Linked DNA regions of Homo sapiens: region 1 is linked to region 2. The links come from fine-mapping of genetic effects on gene expression. A gene starts in region 2. The other region holds a variant in brackets. All regions are shown on one strand. Distances are between the middles of the regions.

Region 1 (5,390 bases), 280 kb before region 2:
TTTTTGCATACTCACAAACCAATCAGCATGCACTCCCCATTCTGAGTCCATAAAAGATCCTGCACTCAGGTGAGCTGGGTCACGCCAGTGTGGCCAAGTGGGACCCTGGTGGGGTGTCACTGGCTGGGGCTCCCCAGCCTGCAAAGTGACTGAGAAGAAAAATCCTACATCAATGTAGTTTCTGTGTGTGAATGACCACAGAATTTCATATGCAGAATTTTCTAGCAGATACAGAAGCATGAAGGGGTATTCACAAGCAGATTTGGATTTTTAAATGACAATCTTTTGATATTCTGTGTCTTGTGAGACATTGCTGGCATACTTTGTTTTTTAGTCTTTAGACTTGGTTTCCTTTGGTTTTTGTAAACATGTTTATAATAGCTGTTTTGTAGTCTTTTTTTCTGAGAAGTTCAACATCTGGCCCCCCAGGATGTTTGTTCTGGCTAAATTTTTTAGTATGTGACTTACTTTTTGGTTTCTTTGCAGGTTTTGTGATTTTTTATTAAAATGTGGCACTTTAATTGATATATTGTAACAATGCTGATATTAGGGATCCCCACCCTCCCACTGCCTGGCCAGAGATTGTTGTTTCTTGATACTATTGCTTTTTGTTAATTTTGCAACTTTGCTGGACAAATTTTGTAGGTTATACATTCCTTACAGTGTGAGGCCACTACATTGTCTACTAGCCTTTTGATTTTGTTTTGTTTCGTTTTGTTTTCAACTTCTTATTCTTTAAGCCTGACTTCCTCTGCATAAAGATCAGTATAATTTAGTGATCCTCTAGTGGCAGGTTAGATGATTTTCTTAGATCCCTCAACTGTGTAACTTGCACCCCTTACTTGGGGTATATGTGTGAAAAGGCATACCTTCAAGCTTCAGGTAAGCTATGATACAGTTTTAGCTTTCATTTCCTGCTTGCACAAGGCCTCTGTGTCAGTCAGAAGTGAGTGACTGATGACTTCACCATTTATGTCTTGGGCATGAAACTAGCCTTGAGCATGTACAGGCTTTTCTATCCCCAAGACTGTCAAAACTTTTCAAAGCTGCCTATGATTGCCTAGTTTACCAGGATGTCATTTTAAACTTTTGCCAGACTCTTCTTTGTCCCAAATTAAATTACAGCCTAAAGCAGCTGTGATATTGTCAACATATTACAATAGTTTATGGTAGTACCCTGAAGGTAGGTTTTTTGTTTGTTCATTTGTTGCTTATTGTTTTATGTTTGCCTGAACTGAGCGCTGAGTCAAAATAAATAACCACAAAATCTTGCATGTAGAAATTTTCCTGAGACCTGAAAATCTGGACTAAATATTGACTATTTCTGGCCATGGAGCTTTTAACAGAGCTCCGCAATAGGTTATTCTTCTCTGTTAGGTACGAGGCTGTCACTCGTTCATAGCTAGCTACCACACCACTGGCCTGGGCAAACATCATACACTCTGCTTTCTTATTGAGGTTCCATAGTTTCTCTTGGTAGAAGATTTTCAACTCTTTCTGTGGCATTAATTAATAGAGTCCTGAAGGAGTTTATTTTAATTGTTTTGCCAGTATTTTGTTGTTTTTGCATGAGAGAGTGAGTTCACTGAGATCTTTAACGTTTCTGAAGTTAATTTCATGTTTTTACATTGTGTTGTTATATATCAAGTTATTCCCTGCAGGCAGAACATACTTAGATCTCTCTTTCTCAATGTGAACTGACAATCTCAACCTTTTAATCAGGGTGTTTAGACCATTTGTACGTAATAAGAACACTGATGTGATTAGGATTAATTCTAGCTGCTTGCTATTTGTATTTCATTGATCTCATCTTTATTTCTTTTGTCAGACATTAGCATTAATGCATATTTTCTATAAGTCCAATTTTTAAAAATCTATTGGCTTGATATCTATATTGCATTATTATATAATTGTGACTGTAATAACATTCATTGTCACAATGTCAGGCTGGTCTCGAACTTCCGACCTCAGGTGATCCGCCCACCTCAGCCTCCCAAAGTACTGGGATTACAGGCCTGAGCCACTGCGCCTGGCCAGTTGTATTATAACATGTGGAAATACCGTAATAGAAATACATAAGAGAAGCTGTCATCAGAGGGTTTCTTAAATTGTACTACACAAAGATTTTTTTTTTTCATCAGAATCATCAGTGACTTTTTAAAGAATTGCAGGTCATGATCTCTACCAAGCCAGTAAAACAACCTCTCAAAGTAAGGAATTGGCATGTTTAGTAAAAACCACTGAACTATAAAAGAGAATAAAACAA[G/A]TATTATTTCTTGGAAATTGGGAAGTTGGAAAATGATGAGAATAAAGAGAAAATAATAAAAAAGAAGAGTTTACCTGGGCGATAAGCTAGAGTGGGTGGGTGCATTACTGGAAGGAAGAGATCTTTAATTGTAAAGCAGACTGTTATTAAAGTGCAAGGAAATCTTTGAAATCCCCGTTAAATCCGCGTGGCCGATGTTGGTAGCTCATTTTACAAATGAGAAAACTCAGAAACAAGTTTTTCTAAATTACTGTAGTAAGCTTACATGGCCACTTATAGGTGACCTAGAACTAAAACCACTTCTCACAAATCAACGAATGCTACGGTCTCTCCAACATTTTTATTGCTTGGTAGCATTTGAATAGCAGTGCCATTGTCAAAAACACATTCATTTCCCTAAAAGGTTGACATAAAATGGAATGTAATGATTCTTAAGGTACTGCGACTTCTGGCAGGTATCAAGGAGCTCCGCATTACTTGACACATATTTTACATCCTCAGTCCGACCTGATGTAAAATGGAAAGACACTAATGTAAGAGTTATTTTACACTGAAACAATTTTGGAAAACGTCTTTCTTGGTTCTACGTGCTTCTGTAAGCCTGAGATGCATGATAAAGTTGTGCTACTATCAAATGCACAAATAGTTTAAGGAGGAGGCCTTCTAGTAAAAAAAAAAAGAAAAAAAAAAAGATGGCATCTTGGCATTTCCTCAGATTTCTCCTCTCAAATGTATTATTTCCTAGTTTCTTTTTATGGTGCATCTGCCAAGGTGTTTTCATTAGGGTTCCTGCTTCTGACAAGCCTAAGGACGGCTGGGAGCCTGCTGGCTTCGGGTTGATGTGGAGACAGTTTCACAGCGTGTCATCGCTAGACCTCGGTGCTGGAAATCTCAGCATTTCATGATCCCTCCGCCCTGAATTGAAAACGAGCATGGAGAGCAGCAGAAAGCACTCCAGGTGGGGAGATACATTTGAAGTTCCTGGGAGGAGAAGCAGCTATAAGAAAGGAAAATGAGAGTTGCCAATGTGTAATTATAGCCTTTGAATAAAAACCTGTTCAAAATACAAGATTGTCACTCTTCCTTTTCAAAAAGGTTGCTGCTGTGATTGGGGGCCTTGGCACGGTACATTCCTGGCAGCAGATTACTCACTGGAGTAATCAGGGGAGAATCGACATTTTAAATGAGGCTCTACTTTCTGTAATATCTTACTTTTCACTTTCATTTATTTCCTGAGCTCTACCAGTTTACATCACATCTCCTTCTGTGTTATTATAATCTCTTTGAAATCTAGTCTTTCTTTTTTGTCTTGCAGTTTGGGATACCCCATTATTTTCTTTGATATAATAAAACTCATTTTTAAAGAAATATGTTCTGATCCTTTGTAGAATTTATAGTTAAGTATTGAGAGACGTTGGTTGTAAATAAGAAAATTCCCATGCTAGTTTCCTTATAATGTTACTTATTTTGAAATGGCAGCTTTCCTTTAATGTTGCCGTTTTCTAAAAAAGTACTTGAGGGGAGGACCTGCAGGAATGAAATAGGGTCATCATGACTGGCCTCCAGTGAGAGACATATTCGTGATCAAGGTAAATTTCTTCGGCTTTTGTTAATTTGCATTTTCACCTTTGTTAGTTACTCTTCTTTCTTTTTTTCTTTTTCTTTTCTTTTTTTATTATACTTTAAGTTTTAGGGTACATGTGCACAACTTGCAGGTTAGTTACATATGTATACATGTGCCATGTTTGTGTGCTGCACCCATTAACTTTTTTATGATGACTTAAGTATTACCAAGTAAGGGTAAACTTTACAAACCTAACTGGTTGAAAAGCTTACTGGTTTGCTGGCTTACAACGTAGTAATGCATGCAAGTTCATCTCTTTCACTGAAATGTTGACGATATTGAAAATGTAGAATCAAGTATAATTACTTGCAAATACTCTCATATAGATTAACTGTAAAATTCTGAACTGTTAATTATATCAATTGTGAATTTAATAAATACTTATTATAAATCATTCTTTACCAAATACAAGCAAGATATAGACTTTTTGTCTTAAAAATGCAGTAACCGTTTCATTGTATAAAAGAAGGATATCTCAGAGATGTGTATAAGTTACCTTAAAAGTAGAAATAAAATATATTTCAGCTTCTAATATTTTATTCAAGAAAAAATTAACTCACCTTGGATCCAGGCATGAATTGTTCTCAGTAGGGAGCAAATATTAATTAGGAAGTACATAGCAAATAATCTGTTTCATATTTCAAGTCATTTTAAAGAAGGAAATAATTACAATTTAAATGATTTATAAGAAATAAATTGATAAATGGGTAATATATTTAATAATAACAAGAAATTTATGTCTGGCCTAAGAATTCCGTAGCCTCACCTCACACAAATATGTGTTTCATTTCTGATTTTGGGATGTGGCCCATTTTTGGGTTCTGGGTCACTGTCTGATGCATGATTCTGATCCTGGGTTATGCACAACTCCAGAAACACTAATTTTTGTGCCATGGTAAAAGCATGACTTTGGCTCACATCCTCGTTTCTGTGGTCCAATTTGAGTTCTAAAAGCTTAGACAAGTCTGGACACCATGGCTCACACCAGTAATCCCACCACTTTGGGAGACTGAGGCAAGAGAATTGCTTGAGGCCAGGAGTTCAAGACCAGCCTGGGCAATGTAGTGAGACTCTCTCTACAAAAAATATATAAGGGTCAAAATAGCCAAGATGGTTCTGCCTGCGCCCAGCTACTCAGGAGACAGAGGTGAACTCAGTCGGGGAAGTAGAGGCTACAGTAGCTATGATCACGCCATGGTGTTCCAGTGTGGGAGACAAAGTGAGACCCTATCTCAAAACAAAACAAAACAAAACAAGATGAAACAGCACAAAACCATAGACAATGGGGTTAGGCCTTATCTATAACTGTAGATTGCCAATTGTTTCCTTCCTTCAGCATTTCATCACTATTTCTGGTCTACAGTTTTCTGTTTCTAATGTGAATATGTAGTATAATCATGAATTTATTAATATTTAAAATGGTCCCTGTAATCTATCAAATAAGTGTTTGTGTAGAGGTGTGTGTGCATGTGTATATTGGGGGGAGGATGGTCACACATA
Region 2 (5,390 bases):
TATTTTAAGCACTGTTGTTTCTCTAATTCCAGACATTGACCTGCTTAAACCTGAACACTGTGGATATAAAAGGATACAGAAGTGTACCTGATCTATAGAGCCCTTACTCTCCAAGCAGAAAATTGTAAAAATATACAGTACATAAGTTAACTCCATAACAGCAAAATTCTAAAGAAAGATGAGTCAGATAGACTAACAGTTTGTCTGTTACATATATAGATATTAATAGGGAATATATAATTGTATATTATTACAAATTAGAACATTAAAAGTCATAAAAGACATGAGAATAAATATAGTCACTCTTTCTGGGTCCTGAATGAAGTGTAGCCAGGTAACCTAGTCACCCCCAAATAATGATTGAAGTCAACATTTTAAATTTGAACTGACAGAAATAGACCTTACTATTTTTAATTAAACAGATTCAACGTTTCCTTTCTCTCCCTCTAAAGCATCAGATAACTTCGCAAGGAAAAGTGCTATTACATTATCTACTTGTTTCAAAAATATATTCACACCATAGTCTTGTGATAATATTGCTCTCTTTATAAAAAGTAGAAACATTAAAAGCTTTTATTTAGTTCTTGCTTAAGAAAGGAGAAATATTTAGTCCATTTACATCATGTAAAAGGTAAATTTTCTTGTTCATGTTAATGGTAGGAGGGCACCATGAATCATGTGACCGATAGCATTTCCTTCTTTACATTGGCTGCTAACAAAGTTAATGGCAGACCTAGCACCATTTGTAACAAAAACATCAATGCAGTTTTCTCTATAAACCTCATTTCTGGCTTCATCTTATCTCTCCTCCTATCACTTTACCGTTTGTCTTGATCTCACTGACCTACATTTTTTATTCATTTTTTTAAACTGAATAGATTTTTATAAGCCAACTTACATCCTTTCTAGGGCAAAGCTAGTTGAAAGAAATTATGTGACATAATGACTCAAAATGCCCAAATTATCGGATCATGGGTAATATAGAATGGTGTTCTAAGAAGGGAAGAGAACTTTCAGAAAGCTTTCTACACTCCCGATCCCTCTTTCAGGCTGCATGTGCTCAATTATACACTTTTAAAGGCAAAAACCTCATCGAACAATAAAAAGAATGCGTTAGAGCTCCTACACTTTGAATTTATTTTGTGATGTATTTAATGTGGTTATAAAAGTCCTGGTAGTTCTCTCTGTGAACCGACAGCCTGACAGAGGAGAAGAGCCAGTGGGGCAGAGAAAAAGCCACAGAAGGGGAATCTCCACAACGATCCCTCAGTTAACACATAAAGAAGATAACCTAGTTACTGGAAAGCAGGAACACGAATATAAAAAGTATGGAAGAGTGGAGAAGTATTAAATGCACACAAATTTGTCTTTGCTACAGAACAAGCAATCAGCCTAGATCCTGAGGATAGCGATTAAAAGCAGAGACTGGGTGTTTGTACATCATTGGATGAATGAGAAGCAGCCAAGAAACAGGAAAAGACTAATTTTAATTACCAGAAAAACTGCAAGAGAAAGAACACAGGGCTAGTGGTAGACGGCTTCCAGCTACAGGCTGCCTGGCACTGTACTCTCCTTGCCAATTAGAGCCAGTCAGACCCCATCGGGGGATTCAGTGAGCAGAAGAATCAGCGTCAGTCCAGGGTCAGGCTGCTCTCAAACACACATGAAAAACGGACACCAGCGGACACGGGGTGCGACCCTAGACTCCCATGCAGTTTCTTATACAGACACAGAGATAGAAAGCAGTACGTGGGATTTCCTTTCCATTAAATACAGGTGCAAACCACATTCTCTATGGAAATATATTGCAAAGGAAATGTTATATAATTTATTTAACAAATACCCAATTACCATCAGCCCAATCGTGGGAATTGGAAAACGACTCAAAGACTGAGAGGAAAAAAAAAAAAAAAGTAGAGAGGAGGACTGGCAGAACAATGGCACTAAAGCTGCCACACTGTGGATTTACTACCTGTGTTATTTTTCCAATTACAGCCATTGTAATATAAAAATTCCGAAAAAAAGGTTGCTGAGACCATTCCTTCGCTTTTTTTTAGAACTGAGTCAACACCCCAAATCAAAGAGAAATATAAACAGGCAGAGCCTGATAGTCCTTAGATGAAACGCGTAAGTGCAGAAACAAAAGAGAAGTGCTTCCCATTCAGGACTTAAGAAAATTCTGCAAAGTGAAAAAGTCCACTCTCAAACCGACCTAAGTGAACGCGTCAGTCTGTGCTGCTGCTGTCAGAGGTGTGAGCCGGGGACTACAGGAATCAGAGTGAAGACAGGAGCGGAGGAAGGGACTCTCGCCTGGATCTCCCGTGCCGACTCCAGCCAGCACGTTTGCTTTGTAATCTATGAATGTTAAATACGGAGGGGTTGCAGAGCAGAAACGCTCGGGGAAGGGGGGCAGGTCCTCTGTACTTAGCAGGGAAGGAAAATGCCGGTTGACTAGTGAGACGAGTGGAGAAACACAGAGCACCCTCCGGGAGGCGCACAGTTCGTTAAGCCCAGGGACATGCTCAATGAACCTTTGCAGCAAGAGGCAGTGAGGCGCTGGACGCGGGCGCCGGTGACAGCGCGGGCGGCCGGGGAGGGGCGAGGGGCCGCCCCGGGAGGACACAGCCAGTCAGAGGCGCGGGGCGCAGGGCGCGCGGACGCATTGGAGGAAAACACGCGAGCCCCAAACACACCAGCCGCAGGAGGCGCCGCACCTACTTCCCAATATAACCAACTACGGCGTGGGGGAGCGGAACTGCGAGAAGGCGGCAGCCAAAGTGCCATTAAAGCTCGGGGCGGAGAGGATGCGTTACCTGGGTCCCGTCTGCTGCGAGAGGCAGGGCAAGCTGGAGGATTCCCTCTGAATGATTAAGAACTCCGCAATTCGCCTCTGCCACAGGCTGCAAAGGACCCGAGGAACCGCTCTCTCTGAACTGTGCTGATGGGCAGGAGGATGGGAGACAGGAATTGAGAGTCACAGAGGAAGGACAGTGGAGTCTGGCATCTTATTGGTAAGTGGCTGACATTCCTTTGCCAGTGACTGCGTTCTGTGATTGTGCACTTCATCTCCCAGCCACTTAGGATTTTTGACACACTCTGTTCTGCAAAGCCATCCTTTCTTGCCATGTTGCCAGAATGTAAAAACTGTAAGATGAAGCTTTTTTAAATAAAGGAAACAAAACACGACTTTATTTCCTGCTGGGATTTTATGGCAAAAAGTTGAAACAAGAGTAAATATAACCTATTTGTATATCTCCTAATGCCACCCAAAATAAGAGTAAGCAATTCCTACACGCAAATTGCAAATTGTAAGGCAATAAATGCCAGGATAAAGTGAGGATGTTTCTACAAAAGAAACTAAATGTTTGGAAAATAGGATGCCGTTCTCAGGTACTGAATGTATGCCTTATGTTTGAGCAATGAGTTTCCGAGACTAAATAATTGGGCATCTGGCATTGCAATAACTTGTTAAAATTCAGTAGGGATGCTCTATAAGTGGAGTTCTACAAAGTTCGTGAGACTGAGAAAAACTGTATCTTGGATTATGCTGAGCTTTTTTCTAAAGGTTGTATAGGATTGTGATAGATTAAAAAATTATGTTCAGACATCCTTACCATGTTTTGTAGGGAGATATACGGAAGAGAATATCAATTTGCACATACACAAACCTGAGAATTACTCTGATGACCTGAACAATAAGTTGTTTCAACTATATTTATTTGCGAAAGAACCAGAATCCACTAAATATTTTAGAATTATATTACTTTTAAATCTTAGAACTGTTCTCCCAAGAAAAATACAATTTCATGTGGTAATTTAAATGCAGGTGAGAAGCAAAAAACTTTTAAACTGTTGTATGTTCAATGCCTTACCTACATTTCATTCATTTGTTTCTTAATTTAAAAGAGAAAATCATTTAGAGGGTCAATACTTCTACTTTGATTCTCAATTACGACTGTGGAAATAAGGATGAAAGAAGTAGATGTTCATTAGAATACTAGCATTTAAAATTATAGACAAATAGTCAAATTTAAAAATTAATGCAGATATCATCGATTACTGTTGAATTGCAACAGAATTACAGAAGTACTTATGACCATTACAGGGAGCTTAAAGGAGTTCATTATGATTAATATTGTGACTCTCAGTATTTTAAAAAATAATGATTAGGTCATTAACTGTTTTTGAAAATGCCTGTAGTCAATTTTGAGCAATTCTCATGGTTGCTTGCATATTCTCCTATTTCATGCTCAAATTATTCTAAGTTAAGTGGGGACTAGTATGCTGAGTCTTAAACTTAACAGGCATAAGTTTACTCTGACTCTAATCGAAAAGAGGTATGAGTAAGAATATGTCATATAAAACTAATGATAACAAATTAAAGATATTACATAAAAAGATCATCTAAGTCCATTAAAGGGAAAAAGGCAAAAAAAATCAGAGTTAAAGTTATAAAAAGGGAAATTCAATATAAAGAATAGAATTTGACAAATAGCTGGAGTGTGAGGGAATGATATTAAAGCCTATCTGAAAATAGAAAGTCAGTGAAATGATTATTACAAGTGCCAGTGTTTTTGCTTAGGAATTGGTGTATCCTTTAAATTATTTAAAACTTCTGAAAATTGAGAAAGGAGGAGAAAAACTGCTAATTTTAATTTCTTTCTGATTCCATAGACAACTGAACAGAAAGTTAGATTCTTAAAAGTTATATAAAAATATAATCCCATAGATTAACTAAATGCCGGACTTTGTCTATAAGTTGTGAGGCACATGCACACCAAGGTGCTTTTGGAAATACATCCAAAAAGCTACAGTTGTGGAATTTTTAAATGAATAGCTGAAATACCTGAATGTTTCTCAAGGTGAGCAGTTAGTACTTCAAGTATTAGGTGGTCTGAAACAATTCTTAGTCAGGGAGCCAACCTGAAATCAAATCATGAATCTATACATAGAATATGTTTATGTAAGATGAATCATTAAAATTAGTAGCATGTAAAAATTTACTTCAATCTTATGTGTCCAATTAAGTAGCGCTATCTGTTAGAAATGTACCAGGTTTGGCTGATATGTATTTCTTTAAATGTCTCTTTTACTTCACAGTTTAGAAAATCTTGACCACTTTCAGGGTAGAGGTAGGAGTGTGATTGTCTGTCACAGCTGACTTAGCAATATGGACCAGAGGGTGCCAGTAAAGGGCAAAGGGCCCGCATAGGCTGGCCAAAGCATTTTGGAGTTTGTCTTACTTCTAGACAAAATAAAGGCATAATTTGTGAAGATTAAAATAAAAATGATGAAAACTTCTCTAGATGGCTGTAATACTGTGAAGATGATTTGACTGTAGAGAGTTTGATTGGCTAAAACAAAGTTGTAGCAGAGTTTAGTGTCTCCTT

Alleles and levels. Positions count from the first base shown, and alleles are read on the strand shown. Sizes are in standard deviations (SD) of each study's normalised expression.
In carriers of allele A in region 1, the expression in thyroid of the gene that starts at base 2,690 in region 2 tends to be higher than with G alone (small effect, 0.34 SD a copy in GTEx).

Evidence for each region. PIP is the estimated chance that this variant, and not a neighbour inherited with it, causes the effect.
Region 1: its variant is fine-mapped to the expression of CNTN5 in thyroid (GTEx, PIP above 0.99).

The regions. Positions count from the first base shown.
Region 1 is chr11:98,733,911-98,739,300 of GRCh38, forward strand. No RefSeq gene overlaps it. Among named protein-coding and RNA genes, the nearest start is that of CNTN5, 280 kb to the right of the region's middle. RefSeq lists a silencer at 596-796. The variant G/A (reference allele first, on the strand shown) is at 2,267.
Region 2 is chr11:99,018,260-99,023,649 of GRCh38, forward strand. CNTN5 (contactin 5) reads left to right here and starts at 2,690. Exons shown (of 25, transcript NM_014361.4): 1 at 2,690-3,011. RefSeq lists a silencer at 5,067-5,267.